2 separate regions of the Homo sapiens genome follow, and region 1 is linked to region 2. Evidence: fine-mapped expression QTL. A gene starts in region 2. The other region holds a variant in brackets. All regions are shown on one strand. Distances are from middle to middle. Region 1 overlaps IFT122 (intraflagellar transport 122). Region 2 holds the start of IFT122 (intraflagellar transport 122).

Evidence for each region.
Region 1: its variant is fine-mapped to the expression of IFT122 in whole blood (TOPMed, PIP above 0.99).

Annotation. Positions count from the first base shown.
Region 1 is chr3:129,509,711-129,521,054 of GRCh38, forward strand. IFT122 (intraflagellar transport 122) reads left to right here. Exons shown (of 30, transcript NM_052989.3): 24 at 2,602-2,702; 25 at 4,679-4,844; 26 at 5,778-5,889; 27 at 7,759-7,884; 28 at 9,397-9,476; 29 at 9,858-10,022; 30 at 10,466-10,797. The coding sequence ends at 10,555. Among named protein-coding and RNA genes, the nearest start is that of RHO, 13 kb to the right of the region's middle. The variant T/C (reference allele first, on the strand shown) is at 5,706.
Region 2 is chr3:129,434,812-129,446,155 of GRCh38, forward strand. It overlaps IFT122 (intraflagellar transport 122), which reads left to right and starts at 5,413. Exons shown (of 30, transcript NM_052989.3): 1 at 5,413-5,560. The coding sequence starts at 5,520. It overlaps MBD4 (methyl-CpG binding domain 4, DNA glycosylase), which reads right to left and starts at 5,137. Exons shown (of 8, transcript NM_001276270.2): 1 at 4,919-5,137; 2 at 2,909-3,139; 3 at 1,650-2,497. The coding sequence starts at 5,022. RefSeq lists enhancers at 4,967-5,046, 5,137-5,276, 5,477-5,686, 5,837-5,886, 5,917-5,966 and 1 more.

The DNA.
Region 1 (11,344 bases), 75 kb after region 2:
CAGAGCCAATATGTGAGTCTCAGTAGTCTGGCACTGGAGCCTGTGTTCCTAGCCTTTCCCTCCCTGTCTCCTTTTAGAGAAAGCAGGCTAGTATGTTGGTTTAGTGGGTAAACTCGAGAGTCCTCACACACAAATGACACTGTGTTACTTATCTTCTCTGGCCTTCAGCTTCTTTCTCTATAAAATAGGGATAACAGCACTATGTACTTGATGGGATTGTTTTGAGGATTAGACGAGTTAATATTGGAAGAGTACCTAGCACAGAGTGACCCTAGGTGGCAGCTATCCTTACTGCTGCTCCAGGCAAGGCTTCACGCCAGCTTTCCCTGACCTGCTCCCTCCAGCTGGGCATCTAGCATTTCTCTTTTTTCAGAGATGAGGTCTCTGTCGCCCAAGGTGGAGTGCAGTGTCATGATCATAGCTCATGGCAGCCTCAAACTGCTGGACTCAAGTGATCCTCCTGCCTGAGCCTCCCAGAGCACTGGGATTACAGGCATGAGCCACCACGCCCAGCCTTCCCGCCGTTCTTTGACCTCTCAAATGCCCTGCCTTCCACCTTGGGCATTTCTTTCCCTCTAATCTGTGCTGACTTCTCAGCACATTTTTTGCCTCTTGGGAAAGTCTGGCAAGAAGGACTCCTGACAGGCTCTGTGCATGCCGTCAGTCTAGTGTTACATCTCTTCCCACAGCAGGGTCAGTGGTCTCAAGGGACCTCATCTTCCCTTACAGTCTTTGGCTTTCCTGAAACGAGACCCCCTCAGGGTCCCTCATCTTTATCAGGTGCTCACCTGGAGAGAAACCACCACAAAAGGAGCCCAGACTCAACTTAGGCTGGAAGTCAGGGCCCAGCTCAGCCTCACTTTGCCCAAGCCACTCCAGAGCCTGGCTCTCAGCTCCTTCCCTCAGACTTTTCTCTCGCTGCTCCCTGTCCTCTTCCTCACCTGGGGCATGGGGCTGAGGGCTCCTGTCTCTAACAGCTGAGCTCTGCTCCAGGACCTACATGGGACTAGGAGCTAAGGGGCCTCAGACCAGCTGGGGCCCTGGCTCTTATCCCAGCTGAATCTTATTAATTGGGCCATTCCTTCATTCAATAAATGCCTACTACGTGACAGACCCTGTGATGAGACCTGGTGACACGGTGGTGAACAAAACGTTGTCCCTGCAGTCAGTCCCAGTCTAGCAAACAGGACAATCCCTCAGGGGAAACGTTTAGAGGCCTGTGAAGAGACTTCCTGGAGGAGGTGTCCTCTCAGCCAGAAGGAGGGAGAGAATAAAAATGGGGCAAGTGAAGTGGAGGAGGATTAGGAAGGGTGTTTGTGGCAAAGGTCACAGCCTGTGCAAAGGCCTGGAGGTGAGTGGTAGTTTGTGGTTCAGCATCCAGGGCCCAGCAGAGCAGCACTGATTCAGGGCAAGACTGGAAAGGGAAGTTCAGGTCCTTCCTGGATACATGGCATCTTTCCCAGAGGAAAGGACTCCCCTGCTACCTATTCTCTCTGGGACGTTACTTAGCTTCCCTACCTAGTGCAGTAGAACCACAGGCAGAGTTCATCTTGTTCTTACCCTGGAAAGGATGTGGTCTCAGGTTTTCTTGGGTTCTTGGAGCTAACAAAAGGTATAGAAATTTACGTGTGAACTAAATAGAAAATGCTAAGCTCTGAACTGAAGAAGTGTAGAGCAAAGTGAGTCCTCAGGAGTTCAGACCAATTAGGGGTTAAGCTTTGGTGGCTCAGTGATGAGTAGGGCCTCACAAGACCCTTCTTAAGTGCTCACAAGAAAGAGGAGTTACTGGCCTGCTGTAATCCTCACCATCTAAAGCTTTATTAGAAATGGGCAATCTCAGTTTATATACAGTGTGCCAGATGCCTTCAAAATAAGGTATTCTTAACCTTTTGTAGACCCTCACACAGAAAATTCCTTATTTGTCTGCTGAGCTTCTGGCAGCCTCTAGGTACGAAGACCAATCACTAATCTGTGCTAACTGCCTCCTGTTAGTGCCTATGCCAGGAGCCAGGGAAATGGGTCAGCAGTTGAGGAACTCCGCATGTGTGCTCGTTTGGTGGCACATCAGTCAAGCTGCTGTTGGAAAGCACAGAAGAGGCATGTGGGTTCATGCTGGAGAGGGCTAAATGCCTCTGTTGAAAGACAGGCTTATATGAATCAGTGGTTATGTCCTAAGCTGCATAGAAGGTCTTCTCTTTTAGAGCTAATTGGAGACAACTTGAGTAGTTCAGAGAAATGGAATAATTACCAACTCCAGAGGCAGTACAGCTTGGAAGAAAGACATTCTTGGGCTTTGGAATCAGACCTGGGTTTGAACAGCAGCTCAGCTCTGTTCTAGTTGGTGACTTGGGCAAATCATCTATCTAGGTGTCGGTTTCCTCATCAGTACTGTGAGGATAAAAATGCATACCACAAGGTTATTATGTTAAAGACCAGATGAGACAGTGGCTATATGGCGCTCAGCACACAGTAGGAGTAGGTGCTCAATAATCAGAGCCGCTCTTGTTGATGTCACTCAGAATTATTGGTGTCTGCCTTTTGGCCTGGCCCAGCAGCAGCTCTTGAAGAACTCAATCCCTGTTTGCTTTTCTCTCACTGCAGGAAGATCCGTTCAGTGTCCATCGTCCTGAAACTCTTTTCAACATCTCCAGGTTCCTGCTGCACAGCCTGCCCAAGGACACCCCCTCGGGCATCTCTAAAGTGTATCCTTTCTCTTATCCCTCCTCCGTCCCACCACCGTTCTTGTCTAATGGCCCCAAGAAATTCCTTCCAGAGCACTTTCCTGGCAGAACCTTCCTCTCTCAGCAACCCTCAGGGAAGACAGAGAACTCACCCTCCCGCTGCTGTTTGGCTATAGAGGCTCAGCAGGGAGGCCCAGGGGCCCAGGCCAAGAGAAGATGAGTTTTCAGGGCTCTCTGAGCTGAACCCAGCAGTGGGTCTCTGGCCAACACACTGTCCCAATCCCTCCTAGAACCCACAGATGAGGGTGTGACTGAAATGGAAGAAGCACCAGGCCTTCAGGCTTGGAACCTTGGGCACTTCTCCAGACTGGGGAGGAGGGAGTGTTTGTTCAGCCCAGGTATACATAGCACCTTCTGTGCCCCAAGCCCTGGGCCAGGCACCAGGTGGCAAAGCTGCCATCAAAGAGGGAGGTCACAAGTTAGGGTCTGGTTTGGTGGATGTGTGCTGTGTCTGAGGGTGGAATGAAGCTGAGGTCAGGGCCATGGTCAGGGAAGTTTACCTGGAGGAGGAGATGTCCATCATGCAAGCTGAGGCAGCCAGGGAAGATGGCCAAGTGGATGTTCCAGGGGAGGACCCAGCATATGGAGAGGCAAGCAAGGCATGTGGGAGAGGGTGAGGGGACCCTGGGTGGGAGGGGCCGGAGAGGCAGCAGGACCCAAGGCCTGAGAGCCTACCTTTGGGTTTTCCTCTCTTCTGTAGCCATCGAGGGCCACAGTGGTACCATAAGCAGAGCAGGTGCCTGAAGGGCCTGTGCAGCCAGATACTGGATCATTACCAGGCAATGATCCAGATTTTTAAGGTCTTGGATGTCAGGAGACATAATTGTCCCTGTTCTTTTCTAAATCTCACTGTACTCTCAGCTCCTTCCCAGCCGCAGCCCCACCTTCCCTCTGTAAGGAAAACCCACTCCACTGGAGAAGACCCAGAGCTCCTTGTTGTAAGAATTGGCCTCGCTAGAGGATTCCAGGCCCATTATGTACATTTCAGGGGAAATACCCTCAAATCAAGGGGTGCCTTCCTGGAGTCAGACCTCTGCTGCATGCGTCTCCGTCTTTCCCCGTAGGAGCAGTCAGGGCTATGCCTGTGGGGGCTGAGCACCTGTACTCATCCTTTCCAGCAAGTTCTGTTTGAGTCAACAGCTTGATAGAACCTCTACCCTGAGCCTTACCCTGTGCCATCCCCTGGGGACCTGGAAATGGCTCCTGACAGTCCCTGACTTTGAGGAGTCATGCTGGAGACACAGAAGGAAACTCTCCACAGAACTGCTGAAGTGGACGGGGCTGCACTGCAGACGGCGGGAGCAGGAACACTGGGAGAGATGCGGGAGGAAGGGCAGGAGGGCCTGGGGGCAGCCAACATCGGAGGTGACCTGAGAGGAGAGCACAAAGGCTCGTCAGCCTCTGGCTGAGGAGCTTCAAGGGGGCCCCAGAGCACAGGCTGCCGCTCAGAAACTGCCCACCAGGCCCTCGGGGAAGGGTGTGCAGACAGAGTGGGGTACACCCAGGGGCCTCAGAGCAGGGTTGAGGGTGGCTCCCCAGGGAGTCTGGACCAGGCCCCACCTGGCAGGGTGAGAGCAGAGTGCCCTTTGTGCCAGGCATCCTAGGAGGGCCTGGCTGGCAGGTTTGGTGAGGCAGGAAGAGCCATTTTGGCCTAGTCAGGGTATAAGATGAGCCATCAGCAGGCCCAGAGATGCTAAGCAAGGTTAAAGTATTAATGGAAACTACGCTGTTTTTATCTTTGGAAAAATTCCTGGGCCTTGCCATCCGAGAAGTACACTCACCTCTCACAAGCGCACAGAGCCTTCCTCACGGTCTTTCCTCTGCCTTCCCGGCACCAGCACAAGCTGTGTTCCAGCCTGGGGCTCACTCCAAGGACAGGCAGTGCCAGCTCCTGGGCCTGGTGTTGCCCCTGCTGTCCTTAACCCTGTTCACGGCAGGAAAATACTCTTCACCTTGGCCAAGCAGAGCAAGGCCCTCGGTGCCTACAGGCTGGCCCGGCACGCCTATGACAAGCTGCGTGGCCTGTACATCCCTGCCAGATTCCAAAAGTCCATTGAGCTGGGTACCCTGACCATCCGCGCCAAGCCCTTCCACGACAGTGAGGTGAGGATGCAGCACCCTTGGGCAGGTGGCTTCTCCTCTCCCTTGAGGCCATCTCATGCCTTCTTGCCTGGCCTGGGTTCCGTTTGAAGAGAGACAGCTGCAGCTCCCTCTAGGCTCTGTGCCCCCTGCTCAAGCCTGGCCATGCCAGCTCCCCTGTGCTTCCCTGTCCACCTCCTGTTCTCCCCGCAGTCCACCTGGCGCCCGCTCACAGCCCCCGGCCCCGGCCTCAGCCCTCAGCCTGGCCTCCCTTGCTCCTTGCCCTCCCCTAGGCAAGCCCCACACCTCTGTGCCCAGGTGGCTCTGCCTTTACCCCAGGCCTGGCCCCAGAGCTGACTCTTACTCTAGAAACCTCTGCCCTTTCTGGAACCAGGCTGTAGTTCTCCAGCAAATCTACCCCACACTCCCAACCCACATTCCTTCAACCCAGCCAGCTTCCTTCTTTCACACATCCTCCCTCAAGCTCAGAGCAAGGACTTGGTTCAGACAGACCTGGGTTCACATCCCGGCTCCACCCTCTCCTAGCTCTGTCTCCATCTTTCTGCACCTTGGGTTCCCCCTTTCCCACAGGTAGTTGTGAGGCTAAATGAGCCAGTATAGTCCACGTGCTCCGCACGGTGCCCGGAGCATGGTAAATGGCTGGCTAATGGTGGCAGCGGCCACTGTCATTCCTGCCAGGGGAAAAGTGCCGTTGAGCGCTGCCTGTGCAGGTGTCTTGGGCACGGGGACCCAAGTGACAGGGCTTGGGTATTTCGGCAGGCCTTTATCCTGCTTCCCCATGGCATGGAGCTCCTGGGCCCGGCGCCCCTTCCCTGCCTGCCCACCCGGGTGGCCTTTCCTCTTGGCAGCCAGGCCCCAGGGGCC[T/C]GAAGCCAGAGTCCAGGGGGAGGAGGACACGTGCCTGCCCCGGCCCCTCGGGAGTCCGTGGCTGTTTTGTAGGAGTTGGTGCCCTTGTGCTACCGCTGCTCCACCAACAACCCGCTGCTCAACAACCTGGGCAACGTCTGCATCAACTGCCGCCAGCCCTTCATCTTCTCCGCCTCTTCCTACGGTGAGTCCCTGCATCCTGAGCATGTGGGTGGGACAGCCTGTGGACAGCCAGGCTCACTCCACTGCTCTCTGGCCTCAGGACGTTGGGCAAGGGCCAAAGGCCTCTGAATGTCCCTGTTTATGAAATGAGGACACTCTGACGCCCACCTACCTGACACAAGGAGTCACTGTCGGTGTTCCCAGAGATAGGACCCACTGCTGCCCAAAGCTGAAGCACCCACTCTGGGAACCTGGCGCAGGGCTTTACATAACCAAATGCCCCAGAAAGAGAGTCCGATGGCTTTGCATTCAGACCAGGAGGCTGAGATAGGTTATCAAGGCCCAGCTCCTTTGATGTTGACAGAGGATCAGAAGCCCCTTCCCAGGAGCTGAGCAGAGGCCACACACACACACAGACACACACGCACACACAGACTGCCCCTGCACACACACACATACAGAAACTGCCCCTGCACACACACACACAGACTGTCCCTGAACACACACACAGACTGCTCCTGCACACACACACACAGACTGCCCCTGCACACACAGAGACTGCCCCTGCACACACACACAGAGACCGCCCCTGCACACACACACACAGAAACCGCCCCTGCACACACACGGAGACTGCCTCTGCACACACACACAGACTGCCCCTGCGTGCACACACAGACTGCCCCTACACACACACAGATTGCTCCTGCACACACACACACACACACACAGAGACTGCCCCTGCACACACACAGAGACTGCCCCTGCACACACACACAGAGACTGCCCCTGCACACACACACAGAGACTGCTCCTGCACACACATACAGAGACTGCCCCTGCACACACACACAGACTGCCCCTGCCCACACACACAGAGACCGCCCCTGCACACACACATGGAGACTGCCCCTGCACACACACATGGAGACTGCCCCTGCGTGCACACACAGAGACTGCCCCTGCACACACACAGATTGCTCCTGCACACACACACACACAGAGAGACTGCCCCTGCACACACACAGAGACTGCCCCTGCACACACACACACACACGGAGACTGCCCCTACACACACACACAGAAACTGCCCCTGCACACACACAGATTGCTCCTGCACACACACACACACACACACACACACACACAGAGAGACTGCCCCTGCACACACACACACAGACTGCCCCTGCACACAGACACACAGAGACCGCTCCTGCACACACACAGAGACTGCCCCTGCACACACACACAGAGACTGCCCCTGCACACACACACACACAGAGGCTGCCCCTGCACACACACAGACCGCTCCTGCACACAGACACACAGAGACCGCTCCTGCACACACACGGAGACTGCCCCTGCACACACACAGAGACTGCCCCTACACACACACACACAGACTGCCCCTGCACACACACACACACAGAAACTGCCCCTGCACACACACAGATTGCTCCTGCACACACACACACACACACACAGACTGCCCCTGCACACACACACAGAGACTGCCCCTGCACACAGACACACAGAGACCGCTCCTGCACACACACATGGAGACTGCCCCTGCACACACACGGAGACTGCCTCTGCACACACACAGAGACTGCCCCTACACACACACACAGACTGCCCCTGCACACACACACACACAGAAACTGCCCCTGCACACACACACATTGCTCCTGCACACACACACACACACACACACACACACACACAGAGACTGCTCCTGCACACACATACAGAGACTGCCCCTGCTGCCTCTTCTTGCTTTTGGTGAAGCTGCCAGTGGGTTGAGAAGCAACTCTGTGGTCACCCCACCTGCCTGGCGGCAAGTCCTTTGCAAGGCCTCCAGCCCCCTCAGCCCTTTCTCTATGCCCTCCAGACGTGCTACACCTGGTTGAGTTCTACCTGGAGGAAGGGATCACTGATGAAGAAGCCATCTCCCTCATCGACCTGGAGGTGCTGAGACCCAAGCGGGATGACAGACAGCTAGAGATTGCAAACAACAGTATCCATGCCCTTGGCCAGAGCCTGTGTGTGCGGCTGTGTGAGGGGTCTGGGGACAGGCGGGAAGTAGGAGGGCCCAGTCCCAGGGGATCGCGGGCCATGCTGAGCCTGGCCCTGTGTTCCCAGAGAGATTGGAGAGGCCCACATGGGACAGGGACAGGGATCAGAGATGGGCAGACAGCTGGCCAGGGCCTAAGGACCCAGAAGTGGCAAGTGGCACCTTGGTCTTCCCGTGTGGGTCTCCCACCCTCCCCTGACCCCTAAAAGGCACTGGCTGTGCCTCTGTCTGTGCATAGCTCCTGCATAGCCAACATGGGACATGATGTCATGATGTCGGTGTTGGCCCCCAGCTCTTCCACTCAAGTCACTTTCGCATGCAAGTGACAGAGTCCAAAACTGACAAGCTGAACAAGCAAAGGGTGTGCAAGGAAGCCCCAAGCAGGAGAGGAAGCTTCCTGGCCCAGCGCTCAGTCTGGTCGGTCACAGGCTGGCTCTGCCTCTCTTGGCCGCACTGTCCTCTGGGCAACTTCATTCTTTGGCAGCCCCGTGGTGCCCCCATAACACAGAGATGTCAGGAGCAGTGCCAGCCCCACATCCCCTCAGCCTTATAGCCCCCAGAAACAGCCAGCTTTCCTCTCAGCTGTGGCAGTGAAAGCCCCGGGGCACAGCTCAGCCTGCCCCTTGGCCAGGAGGATGCACCAGGGCAGTTGTCCAGGGCAGGCCACACTTGCAGGCTGGACATGGGAGGGGCTTCTGGCAGGGAACAGCACACACGTGGCCTGAGGCCTCGCTCCCTTGCACTGACTGAGTCTGCAGGCCTGGGGGCTGTAAGCCTGCCTTCCTTGCAGCTCCCAGGTGCTGCCACCCCCAGGGGCCACACTGGGAGGAGGGAAGCTCAGAGAGCTGCTTGCTGAAGGAAAGACGGACCCATCTCTGCCACCCAGGCTCCCTCAGGTGCCACAGATGATATGTGCTATGGTGCTGGCAGGTGGGTGCTGTGCCCACTCCAACTTGGTACCAGCAGTCCCCATGTCCTGGGCCTCCCTGCAGGACCCCTGCTGGCCTCTGTTACCAGCCCCACCACTGTGGGAGAGGGGCGGTTTCCAGGGACCTCCAGGTGAGTCTGACCCGCCCTGGGGTCAGCAGGGACTCTCGCCCCTGTCTGCTCCATCACAAGTGCCCGCAGACCCCCAGCAGCCACTGAATGTTTCTCCAGGATCCCTGGGCCCATCCCCTCCGTGCCTACCCGCAGTGGCTCACAGGGCCCGCATGTGCTTCCCACTGGCCCTGGGAGCTATGGTGTGTGTGGCCTGCGAGGGGAATGGGTGAGGGCAGCAGGGCCAGCAGAGTCCCTTCCTTCTGATTCCTTGGCCTGAGCCCCCTCTGTTCCTCCACCTGGAAAACTCTTCCACTGGTCTGGCTGCCCTTGAGTCTTCTCACAGGGGTGTAGGGTGGAGGCTAGGGTCTGTCTCCATCTCTGCTTCTGATTCCATCCTTGACCAGATCCCTCCAGGCTCCCAGATTCTGCGGCTAGTGGAGACCAAGGACTCCATCGGAGATGAGGACCCGTTCACAGCTAAGCTGAGCTTTGAGGTGAGGGTGCCTCTCTGGGTGACCTGCAGGAGGGCAGCCTCCATCCCTTCTCCTGTGCACATGGGGACCCTCAGCTAGCGCAGTGGTGGAGGAGGATTGGCCAGAACTTCCAGATGTGGTGGCACGAAGGAGGGGCAGGACCCCTTCCTGTGGGGTGTGGGAGCCATGGCTGCCCCCGAGGGACCATGGCCAAGGGCGCAGGTCTGTGGACAGGGAGGCAGCTTCAGCTCTGGTGGGAGGAGCTTGCCACTGTTAGGGTCACCTGGGTTTAGGAAGCAGGTCCTCTCTCACCACTGCCAAAGATTCCAGGATCATAATCCACACAGATGTCTCACTGTGGCTGAGTGAGGACACTGTGCCTCCTTCCCGCCCACCCTGCAGCAAGGTGGCTCAGAGTTCGTGCCAGTGGTGGTGAGCCGGCTGGTGCTGCGCTCCATGAGCCGCCGGGATGTCCTCATCAAGCGATGGCCCCCACCCCTGAGGTGGCAATACTTCCGCTCACTGCTGCCTGACGCCTCCATTACCATGTGCCCCTCCTGCTTCCAGGTAGGTGGCCACCCTGGTAGCTCACATGTGCTTCTCTTGGCCACTTTTCCCTTGCCCAAATGTCCCTCTGGGAGGCGTGGCCCCTGGGAGGAGGGGCACATCCATGGCTCCAAGTTGGGACAGAGGCTTGTCTGTCCTCTCCCCTGCTTGCATTCCATGTGCATCTAAAGTGGACTTCACTGGCCCCTGCGCTGTCCACATCCTCCCCAAATCCTGGGGGCCCAGCAAGCGTGATGTGCCCTTGACCTTCACTCAGAAAACAAGAAACCCCACAGCCCCCTCCCATCTCCCCTTCCAGCCCTCAAACAAAGGTGCTGCAGGTCTGTGTCCAGCCCTGACCACTGCCAAGCCCCCTCCCCTTGAGAGGCAGTGCGTCCTGGCCCCAGGCGTAGGGCTGATGAGCACTAGGGCTTCAGCCTGGTCTTACAGCTGTCTTCCCTTAGATGTTCCATTCTGAGGACTATGAGTTGCTGGTGCTTCAGCATGGCTGCTGCCCCTACTGCCGCAGGTGCAAGGATGACCCTGGCCCATGACCAGCATCCTGGGGACGGCCTGCACCCTCTGCCCGCCTTGGGGTCTGCTGGGCTGTGAAGGAGAATAAAGAGTTAAACTGTCAGAATGTGTTTCTTGCCCAGATGAAGTTTGTGTTTTGTGGGGGGGGCCTTGTGTAACCACGGAATTCCTATTTATGGCATTTCATGCCTTGTAAATAGCACCAGGAGATGAGGAAGAGAATGTACATATATTTTCTAAGGAAAAAAATCTGTTACTTTCAGAACGGCTCCGAGTTGTTCGTGGCAGCCTGCTGGAGTCCGCCGATCTGTCAGACCGTTAGCATGTACATTTTGCCAACAGATTGCCTCAATAATGACAAAAGGGCTCCTTATTTTCATCAGCATCTACATTTTAGCAAATCATCTTATTGTCTGCAACTTAATTTCCGTATGCAAAAGTGCACCTGTTTCTAATTTGAAAGGAACATTACATTTGTGTGCTCTTAACATTTAATCAAAATGGCAATATAGAAAGGGGTGGGGGAGCAGGGGGTTTTTTTGTTTATTTATTTTGATTTAATGGGGATCCATCTTGACAAGAGAAAATACGTGGGTCCAAAGAAGATGGCAGGAGTTTAAAAAAAGGCTCCTGTTTGGTAGCCCAGTCAAGGCTCCTGTCCAGGCTCTGGAGCCGCCCTCTTCCATCCACCTTCCCCAGCCCCACAGAGCAGCCCCAGCCCAATGGAGACTCTTCCCTTTGGAACAGCTCCTTAAGCAGGGGGTTTCCGTTTGAGATTCCAGACTGCCAAGGTCTGTTCCCTCAGGCAT
Region 2 (11,344 bases):
AAAACAGAATCTGCAGAAAAACCTACAATTTGAACCCTAGAACACCTGAGACAACTACCTATTGAGAACCTCTATCTATTGGGAACCAGTGTTATCAGACTTCTCAAATTTCTAAAATCACATGTAATACTCCTTAACCATACCCTCGCAATTTGAATATCAGTTAATAATACCTTGCATTTGTATAGCATCTTTTTCACTTCTCATTTTACAATATTTTTGATGTGAAAAACAGGACTAGTCAGGATGGTTACCTCTATTTTACAGATGAAGAAAGTGAAGCTTCTAAATGAAGCAATCATCCCAAAATGATACTGGGATTGACTATAAACTGGAACAAGTATCCAGGTCTCCAGATAATTAGACTACTGTTTTTTCGCTATTTTAGTTTGAGTAGGTAAAGCCCAGTAGAGAGTAAAAAAAAAAAAGAACAAAGGAAACTGCTCTGACTGCTCTGATTTGACAACTTTTTCTGTGGGCTCCTATGAATAATTACTAGTCTCCTTTATGCCAGGTTTACTTGGCAATTTCTAGCTAAGCCAATGGGTGTCTTCACTATTTCATGGACACCTCGTACTAAGAGTACTTCATCTCATGTTGAGAACTAGACTCTTACCACAAAAAAAAGTTTTTAATATTTGCCCATTTTGCTAGCAATAAATCTACATAAACCTCAAAGCTTTCTTCAAGAAGCTCAGTGTCTAGGACACAGACTTGAAGAATTCTTATGCAGTTCCTAGGTATATATGGCCATCTTGTGTTAAAGGCAGAGAAACTCCAGGCACAGAAAAGACATAAAATCATGGGTAGAACTGGGAACAAGAATCAAACCTAATCTCCTGCTTCACAAATTTCTCCAGGCTGTTTCCCCACAGGAGTTTAAGTAAAATTATTATTCTTTAAAGGAGTTATTCATTATACCATAATGGCATAATGAATAACTAATACAGGGCTGCTCAAAAGGTCTCCCTTTTATCTCTTATTCACTGAGGTATTATAAAGACAAAACTGCTAAGTTCTGAATTCTGTATTAAGAGCATATTACAAATAATAGATGAACTATGTGATTATACTTTTGAATTATTTAGAGCTCTAAAGCATTTTAGAGAAGCATTACATTAAAATAGAAGATAAAAATGACTATGATATATACAAAATTAAATTGGAAGTCACACTTAGTAGTAAGTATCAGGAGGGGTGTGAAGACACCAACTATTCTCCACTCATTTATGTATATAAGAAGCCTTCCCTAAATTTTTCACAAGTGAAGGCTTTTAATTTTCCTTCAAGTTTTAAGATTACTGGCTGGAAAGAGGATGGGAAGAAGGGAAAGCACTGCTGAGGAGGAGAGTCCCAGCTGCTGCACCAGGGAGAGACGATGGCAGCTGTTAATAGTAATACTCTCCTTTGCCATGGCATCACGACAGCAGTCAGCCGATTTTCTCTCTGCCATAGGAAACTGCTTGAATATCAGTTTAAGATAAAGTATTAGGATCAACTGGTATCTCATATTTGGCCCTATTTCTTGGCTCTATTTTCACATCTTAACCATGTATGGGCACGAATACAAGATGCAGCATTATAAATTTCTCATCACATAATGTTTAATAGTGCTTGAAAGCACTGGATACCTTGAAATATTTTCTCACCAGTGAAGTCTTTCCTGGTTGGTGAGCAGTTGTTGTCCATTTCAGAGCCACGTTTTAAAATGTCAGTATGCAAATGTTCTTTCCTTTCCACAACTTCTACTTTTGTTCCGATTTCTTCAGATTCTAAAAAGGTATCCTCATACTTCTCGTTGTGTTCTGAGTCTTTGGCTGAACAAAATTTGTTTATGATGCCAGAAGTTTTTTGTTCAGAACAAAAATTTGATCCTGAACTCAATGATCTTTCTTTTTTTTTTACAAGGCTGTTTTCTTCACTGGTCACACTGAGGGTCTCACCACATGCTCCAGCATCAGAAATGCAGACAGTTCTATCAAGCTGACTTTTTTGTGCAACAGGTTCACTTTCAGCATCTGCTTTATTACACACAGATTCTCTTTTGCTATCACTTTGAACAAAACCTGAACAGCTCTTCCTACATCCTTTTTTAGTTTTCTTAATTGGGATTCCTTTCAAAATAGTCACCTTTCCTTTGGGCTTTCTAACCTTTCTGAAGTTAACATCATCAACACCCTCATCTTCTTTCAAAAGCAAATGAGTGGAAGTAAAGTTAGAGAGTCCTCTGCTCTCCTGCAACTCTGAACTACTACTTGGCGGCATAAACACATCCTTTTTGCACTTGCTTCGGGTCCTGAGGTTCCAGTTTGAATTGTTACTTTGGTTTTGTAGATGGGATGTCAGGGCTGCCATGCTGCAGTCTTTATATCTTGACTTGATACCCCTTTTAGAAAGTACAGTAAAATCAAAATCTTCTGGCTTAAGAGAAGTCTCTCCATTTTTGTGAAGATAATTAGCAAGTGAACTTTTGGATCTGAACTTCAGTCCTTGTGGGCTAGAAAATGATATTAAAGGAAACTTACTGCTAGTAAATAGAAGGGACTTTTAAAAGAACTGGACCACATTTCAGATTTCTAATTAATTTCCAAATGTTGCCATAGGTATCTGTCATTTAAAAATGAAAAAGAGTGATAAATGGCACTTTTAAATGGTTTCCTCTATGACAATATAAATTTATAAATATAACTAAAATGCAACCTACCCGTTAACCATTCACAGAAGGAGGGACAAAATGTATGTAATTTTCCCCAAATCACTTGATGTAATTAATAGCAACATTGAAAGAATAGAATCTGCAATGGTTTTATGGTAAAAATATAAAGAAGCTAAGATTCCTGCTATGCTCCCACTACCTGCCCAGACAAAATCATTTGGCTGTACTATCTTTACCATCTTATATGCTTACCTGATAAAGTACACATCAAATCTTCCTGCTGTCTTCCCAAATAACCTTTGCTTCACAACTCTTTCCCATCCACATGGGACAGACTTACGGCATTCTGTTCCTGCAGTAGCACCAAACTGAGCAGAAGCGATGGGTTCTTGTAGCAAGGGATTACATTCACTGCTTCTTTTTATCATCATTTGTTCCTCATCTTCTCCCACTCTTTCCAATTCCATAGCAACATCTTCTTTGCTGGAAAAACAAAGTCTAAGTGATTAACTTATTTAAAATTTATCTTCCACTGCCTACTCAGTTTTAATCCATGACAATGCAGGAACCACATAGATTATCCATATTAAAATGAGGGAGATTAAAGTCAGTGTGGACCAGTCTTGTGCTATGGGAGTATTTTCCTGTCTTCCAAAAGCTTCCCATATCCTCTAGCACAGGTTAAAAGGTGTTGGAAATCTCTGCACAACAAAAAAGTCAAGCTAGAAACTTTTCGGATTAATCACTGAGTAGGGCTATTATAAAGATTTCTGGGGGCACTTACCATAAATTTGAGAATATGAACCAATAGCTAAGCTCTTAAGCACCAGAAAATGCTTAAATAAATCAGTGAGTTACACTGTCTTCTCTGCAAATAAATGAGGTAAAAGTTTTACATAATGTAAAATTTCTGGGAGAGAGTGTGTATCACTTTCATCAGATGTAATCCTCCAGAAGGTAAATAATTTGATACAGAATTTTTGAATCTTCTTCATTCTTGATCCTCATGGTAACCTTGTAGGTACAATAAGGTTTACTCTCAATTTATTGATAAAATTGAGTGACAGGTTAAATTACTTGCAGAACAGACACGAGAACCCAAGTCTACCAAATCTTGGTCTAATACTTCTCCCCCATACTGTTATTGAAAAAAGCTGGCAAGGCAAGGTGGCTCATTCCTGTAATGCTAGCACTTTGGGAGGAGGAAGTGGGAAGATCACCTGATCCCAAGAGTTTGAGACCAGCCTGGAGAGCACAGTGAGATCCTCGTCTTTGCAAAAAATGAAAAAAAAAACCCAAAAAAACAAAAAAAAACAAGCAACCGGGCGTGGTGGAGCATACCTGTGGTCCCAGCTACTAAGGAGGCCGGGGTAGGAGGACTGCTTAAGTCCGGCAGGTCAAGGCTTCAGGGAGCTATGATTGTGCCACTGCACTCCAGCCTGGGTGACAGAGCGAGACCTCATCTCAAAAAAAAACCCACTAAACTAAAACTTCATTAAAGTTCCAATGTGTCTTCTATGATGAAAACATACTTTTAAAATTAAAAAAAAAATTTCAGTAAAGTGTATCCTAATCACTAAACCACAGATTGTAAAAGGTGGATGGGTCTAGAGAGATCATTTAACCCAAGTTCTTTTCTACAAATAGGGAAACTGCAAGAACTAGAATTAGAATCAAGGTTTTCTGATGTAATTTGGGGTAAAATAATTTTGAGGAGCTGGATGGATCTTATGAAATGATATTGTTTACAATTTTAGAGATAAAAATACTGAAGCCTGGTGGAATCAGCACAAACTCTTAAGAGACTGGGGCTCAAATTCCAGCTCTACCAGCTGTAAGTTTAGCAGCAAGTTACTTAACATCTCAAAGTCTCGGTAAAAGACTCTGTAAAAAGAAGGTGATGCCTCTTTCAAAGTAGTTCTTAGTATTAAATTTTGAAAAAAGTAGGTAAATCTTAACCTCCTATCACACACGTAGTCTAATGACTTCCTAGGATCCTCCAACCCCAAGGGGACCTCTTTCACAAAACCTCCCGGCTCCCCCCCAGTCTCCCTAGTCATCTTAGATGAGGAAGTCGAGCGCACCCCAGGGCTGATCGCACAGGAAGAGCACCTGGGCTCCAGACCCTAGTAACTAAACCCGTGGGCTTCGAGGTTTCTGCCGACCCTCTGTCAAAGGTTAGAAAGGCCCACACACTGTCCACTCTCCCGATACCATTTTACAGGTGGTGAAACTGAGGCCCAAAAGGGGACAGTAACTTACCGGAGGTCATTCGGCGGGTCTGGGACTAGGCGCTCACTAGAGGTGACGGTGGGGGCAGCTCCGCGGTCCCCCAGACTCAGACTCTCCAGCCCAGTCGTGCCCATCGAGCAGGGTCCGGCTGCAGCAACGAGCCCAGCGCCGCAACGCCCAGGGTGTGGGGCGGAGTAAGATGTGAAACCTCTTCAGCTCACGGCACCGGGCTGCAACCGAGGTCTGAATGTTGCGAAAGCGCCCCAGACGCCGCCGCTGCTTTCCGGCCGCCCCCTCGGCTACAGCCGCCATTTCCACGCTCCACCAATCAAATCCATTCTCGAGGAAGACGCACCGCCCCCACACGCCCCGACCAATCGCTCGCGCTCTGGTTGCGCTGGCGCCTTAGGGGCTCCAGTGCCACCATTGCTTTTGCTGCTTTTCTGGCTTTCCCTTTCGGACATGCGCGCTCGGAGCAAGGCGCCCTCGCACTCAGCTTACCGCGCATGTACGTTGCCAGGGGTAACGCAGGTAGCCAAAGTGGCTTGTGGAGTGGCGACCGTTAGTGAGGCGGTTGCTGAGACAGACGCTGAGGCGGGTAGGAGGAGCCCGAGCCGTAAGGGAAGCCGTGATGAGGGCCGTGTTGACGTGGAGAGATAAAGCCGAGCACTGGTGAGGAGCGGGGCGGTTCGCGAAGAGCAGGAGGTCGAGTCCTCGCGGGGAGTGCGCGAGCCGCTGCAGCGTGTTTGAGGGGGGCAGCGGGCTTGCTGCCTGGGCCGAGGGCACTGAACCCCGGCCTGGGAGACTGCAGGGTCGCCCTCCCGCCCCTTGGCGGTTGGAGAAACTCCCGAGGGTTGGAGAGCGGCAAAGGGAGGTGCCGCGCCTGAGGTGGTGGCGGGTGGAGGCGGCTCTTCCCTCACGGTCTGGCCCTGTCGCTGCCTTGGATTCATCTCACACCCACGAGACAGCACGAAGCTGCTCAAGCTTCACAGTTCTTGCCACATCCACATAGTACCCATACTCTTGTTTTCTTGACGTTTTTCTCTAAATTGTCTCATTTATTTTAATTATGATTTCACATTTTACAAGGAAACTTTATTACTCCATTTATGAAAACCAGTGTCACTTGCTCTAAATGTTAAGATAAAATCAGCGTCGCTTGCTCTAAGTGTAAAAGTAAAACTTAAAGTAGGGAGAAACAAAACTGAACAAGCTGTAGCTAGCTATTGTTGCTAGGGAGCCTTTAAACCTGAGATCTCGTTTCTCTAAAACTGGAGATGGGCAGGTATGATCAGAAAGGTGCTCAAAATGAGCACCAAACACAAGCTCTCCTAATTGGGAAGTCTGAAAAAGAACTGAAGGGGAATGACTTTGTCACCTTTTGATTCAGTTATTTAATGTCCTATTCCATTGTTATCGCCTAAATCTATAACATAGCAGTCTGTTTTGTCATATTCTTACTTATGGGATAGGTCTTGGCCTGACTTTGAAAATCATTCAGCATTGTTGTGAAGCCTCTGTTCTGGCCACTGGAGCAGGTTACTTGTCTTTGGTTCTGTCCCTTCTGAGATCTTTCTCTGTGTAAAGCATGCCGTCTCTCCTCATCTCACACGGAAATCCTGAACATCCTTCAAGGCTCACGTTGGAGACGGGTCCTCTCTTTTGTGTTCGGCACTAGTGGTAGCTGACACTATGTGCCAGGTGCTGGCTAAGCACTTCATATCCTTTATCTCGTTGTGTCTTCACCACTCTCTAAGGTAGGTACTATAATTTCCTCTATTTTATGTATGAGGAAACTGAAGCCCAGAGAGGGTGGATAATTTGCCAGCGTCACACAGTGAGGGGTGGAACCAGCTTTCAAGCTCAGGTCTTCCTCACTCCAACGTCAACGCTCTCAGCCACTACATTAATTTTTCCTTATGTTACAGACGTGGCAAACTCAAATGTCTGCAGGAGACAGGCAGGTAACATAAATGGGAGATGTTTATTTGCATCTTCAACACTAGGAATTGTATGTTTTCCCTAGGAATAGTCTTGTATTCTGTACCCCATTTTTCTTGAAACACAGCCGTATCAGTGAATCTTTCATTTGTACTTTTAATAGAGATTTGAGTTTTAAAAAATCATTTTACTTTTAACTTTATTATAAACGTACCTATAGCACAAGCTGATGATAGCTGGCAACTGAACATTTGGCTTCAATGTCAGAGTAATAGAGTGTGGCAAACTGCAGAGCTCATGCTCGGCCTAAAAGGGGCAGCTGCTGCTCAGCTCCTGCCAATTACCACCATGCAGGAATTTGGCCTAGTGTGCTCAGCTCTTCCTGTTTTTACCAGAAGCTAGGAATCTGGGTTTTTATGTGAAATGGCCTAATTTTTAAATGTTAGCATCCACTCTGAAAAAAAAACAAAACACCGTGTGGGCCAAATAAAACATTTGCTGGCCGAATGCAGCCTGATTTGCTCTGTTTTCAACCCCTGGCACAGAATTTTGTTCATTTCTCTCTTGTGGTACTTCCAGAGTCTGTTGAGCATAAGAGTTAATTTTTTAAATCTGTTTAATTCAGAAGTCTAATAAACCCGTTAAAGGCAATGGCTATGTCTTACTCGTTTCCAAATTATTCTAGAGACAGGTCAGTGGTTGTTGTTACTATGGATAGTAATAAAATACTAGATATATATAAAACGAAATACTGTGGGTAGATGTATTCATACGTGAATGAATGATGAATAAAGATTGGTTTTCTGGTTTTTGGCCCATTACAGATTTGAGACAACCTATTAGGATAAGGGATGTAGGGGTTCTATAGACCATCAATCCTGATGGCTGCTAGATATACCAGCTGATAGCCCAGAATGAAAACAAAACAAAAAACTAAACAAAAAAAAAAAAGACAGTAGAACTAAAAAAATCCTAGATGTCAAAGATTAGTCCTCCACATCCAAATCAGCCATTGTCTCCCGGTCTGCTCCTTTGCTTCTATTTTAACCTTCACATAGCAGCAGGAACTCTGTTTTTTTAAGACCTGCTGCTGTGATCCTGTTACTCTACTTCTCATAAACCTAGAGTGATTCCCAATTACTTTCCATGTCAAGTCGTGCATTTTGCTAGAGGGTCCTCCTGACCCTCCTCCCCATCAGGCTTGCAACATTTAAATTTATACTTTTAGGTTGAGCTGAAAACTCTATTTTTCTACCCGAAGATCCTTCCCAAATGCTCCCTTATTCTATGAACTCCCTAGTTTTCTCCTTTAAATGCACAGCTCCAGGTTCATCTCAACCAGGATGTCTTATTAGGCTAGCCCACTGTATTCCAATCAGGCTAGCATCTGCTGTAACTCTCCATTCATGCCAGCTAGTATTTACTGAGTACTTGCTATAGGCCACATGTCCACATGTCTTTATAGGTGTTATCATGTTTAATCTCTACAACATGTGAGGTTGGAATTTTCATCTCATTTAAAGATGAAGAAATTGAGATTTAATGAGGTGACATAAGTTACCTAAGATTACAAAATGAGTAAGTGGGGCTGGGTCAGATGATGCAGGAATTGGAGAGGCACTGTGGGACATTGGTTTACAGTGAGGTGGGTGCAGGGTTGTCAGAGGACAATTTGCAGGATTCCTCTGTATCTCTGCAATGGAATCTGACAGTGTGTCTTCTGACAGTGTATCTCTTTTATAAAAAGAGGCAGGTGGAGAGAGAACCATCCTACAGTAGAATAGACTGCCTGCAAATGAGTGAGCTCCCAGCCCTGGAGTGTTCAAGCAGGGGCTAGATGGCCATCTATAAGGAATTCTTGCCCTGATGGGCCAGATGGACTGCATGACAAGGTCTAGAGTCCTTTCCAATTCTGAGTTTCTGGTGATTTCATAATTATATTTATTACATGTCTAGGACAGTGCCATGCACTGTGGGTCCACAAATATGTAGAACATGGCCATTGCTTTCAAATTGTGTATGACTATAATTAAAGGGGCAAGGCAAGATAATATCTAACACAATGTAAAGAAGACTGTATAAGTCAGAGCTAAACTGAAATGTACAGATTCTAAGTACATTAAGAGTTTAGATTGGGGCAAATCAGACATATATGATATATTTTAGGAAGGCAAATTTCAAGATATTCAGAGAAAATGAATTTTTATATCTAAGAGGAAGAATGTTCAGGCTTGGCTCAAATGAGACATTCAGAAATGATTTTGTGATAATTCAACCCAAAATGACCCTTATGAAGAAGAGGTCACACAGGAATCACTTTGATGAGCTCATATGTGTACAAGGCAGAAAGGAAGCCACATACCAAGGATGACTTTAGATGAGAGGTGCAGACACTGCTCCAACATCTAATAATCCACCATAGCAATCCACAAGTGTCAGGCGCTTTGGATAGACTGGCTTGTGCACCCCGTGAGTAGGAGGCTACCTCTCTATCCTTGTTTTGTAGGTGAGAATGAAAGCTCAGATAGGAGATCAGCTTTTCTGGCCCCACGTCCCCCCTACTTTTTATTCCGCCATGCTGCTTCTCAAAATGTGAAATGTGCCAAGGCTCAGAGGAAGAAAGCGTAAGAAACAAGGAAGGCCCAGGTCTGTTACCACATAATGGTGAGGAAGCTGAAAAACTCAGGGCTTCAGTTTGCCCAGCTGGAAAGAGTGTGATAATCATCCTTGTTCCAGCTTCTTTATCAGCCAGCTCTGTGACTAGGAGCAAACAACTTGCCTCTCTGTACTTTAGTTTCCTCATTGGTAAAATCGGGGCAGTGGTGCCTGTCCTGTCTACTACATTATGTTTTCGTAAGGATCAAATAAGATAATGTAAGTTTACACTCTTTTTTTTTTTTGAGACAGAGTCTCGCTCTGTTGCCAGGCTGGAGTGCAGTGGCGCAATCTCGGCTCACTGCAAGCTCCGCCTCCCAGGTTCAAGCCATTCTCCTGCCTCAGCCTCCCGAGTAGGTGGGACTACAGGTGTGCACCACCACGCCCAGCTAATTTCTGTATTTTTAGTAGAGATACAGTTTCACCATGTTGGCCAGGATGGTCTCCATCTCTTGACCTCGTGATCTGCCTGCCTCGGCCTCCCAAAATGCTAAGATTATAGGCGTGAGCCACCATGTCTGGCCAAGTTTACACTCTTTAACAATTCTTAAATATTGAATAACTGTGAAGAGTTTTTATTAAAGGAAGCGTCAGGTCAACAGAGCCATATTAAAAGCTTTCTGAATTCTTCATGTAATGCCTTAAGTAGGTAATAATACCTTTTTTTGACATATGCCAACAATGATAATGGCAGCCACATAGCATAATGGTTAAAACATGGGCTTCAGGCCAGATTGCCTGGGTTTGAGGCCGGATGCAGTGGCTCACACTTAAAATCCCAGCACTTTGGGAGGCTGAGGCAGATGGATCACTTGAGGTCAGGAGTTCGAGACCAGCCTGGCCAACATGGTAAAACCCTGTCTTTACCAAAAATACAAAAATGACCTGGGTGTGGTGGCAGGCACCTGTCATCCCAGCTACTCAGGAGGCTAAGGCAGGAGAATCGATTGAAACTGGGAGGCAGAGGTTGCTGTGAGCCAAGATCCTGCTACTGCACTCCAGCCTGGGTGACAGAGCAAGACTCCACCTCAAAAAAAACAAAAACAAAAACAAAAAAACAGATTGCCTTGGTTTGAATCCTGGCTCCATTTCCATTCAGTAGCACTTTATTTTCAGGCAAGTTATTTAACTTCTCTGTACCATAGTTTTCTCATCTGTGAAACAGGTATACAGTTGTTTTGAGGTTAACATGAGTTAATACATGTAAAGCATTTAAGCTGTACCTGGCATACACAATAATAAATGTGTTCAATAAATGTTAGTCACTGTTATTAAAGTATGAAGGATAACAGATTTGACATACTTGGCAGTAATTCAAGGGAGCAGAAGGCAGCATAGCGCGTTAATTACAAGCACAGACTCTAGAGTCAGACCTGAGTTGAAATCCTGGCCCTTGCACTTGCTAGTTGTGTGACATCAGGCAAACTACTTGACCTCTCTGAGCCATGGTATCCTCATCTACAAAACAGAGTAATAATTCCTACCTCACAGAATTATTGTGGAGATGAAATAAAATAATGCATTTTAAGAGCTCAGCAGGTGCTGTCTGGAATAAGAGTTCGAAGTACTGTCATTGAGAGTGTACTTCCAAGTTACTGACAAAAGCTTGATTTTTAGATTACTGGTATAAACCAAAAATAAAATTCAGAGGCCCCCCAACCATCTGAATGGATTTCCTTCTCAACCAGGGCTCTTTTAAAATTTAACCTGAGAGACTGTTTCAGGCCATGATGGGAAATGGGGGTCAAACATGCCTCAGTATACCTCTCTGGCATTAACATCAACACAGACTTTAAGTATGATAAGAAACATTTTACAAACTCTCCTCTCTAAAGCCTAGTACCTCAAGGCTTCCTCTGC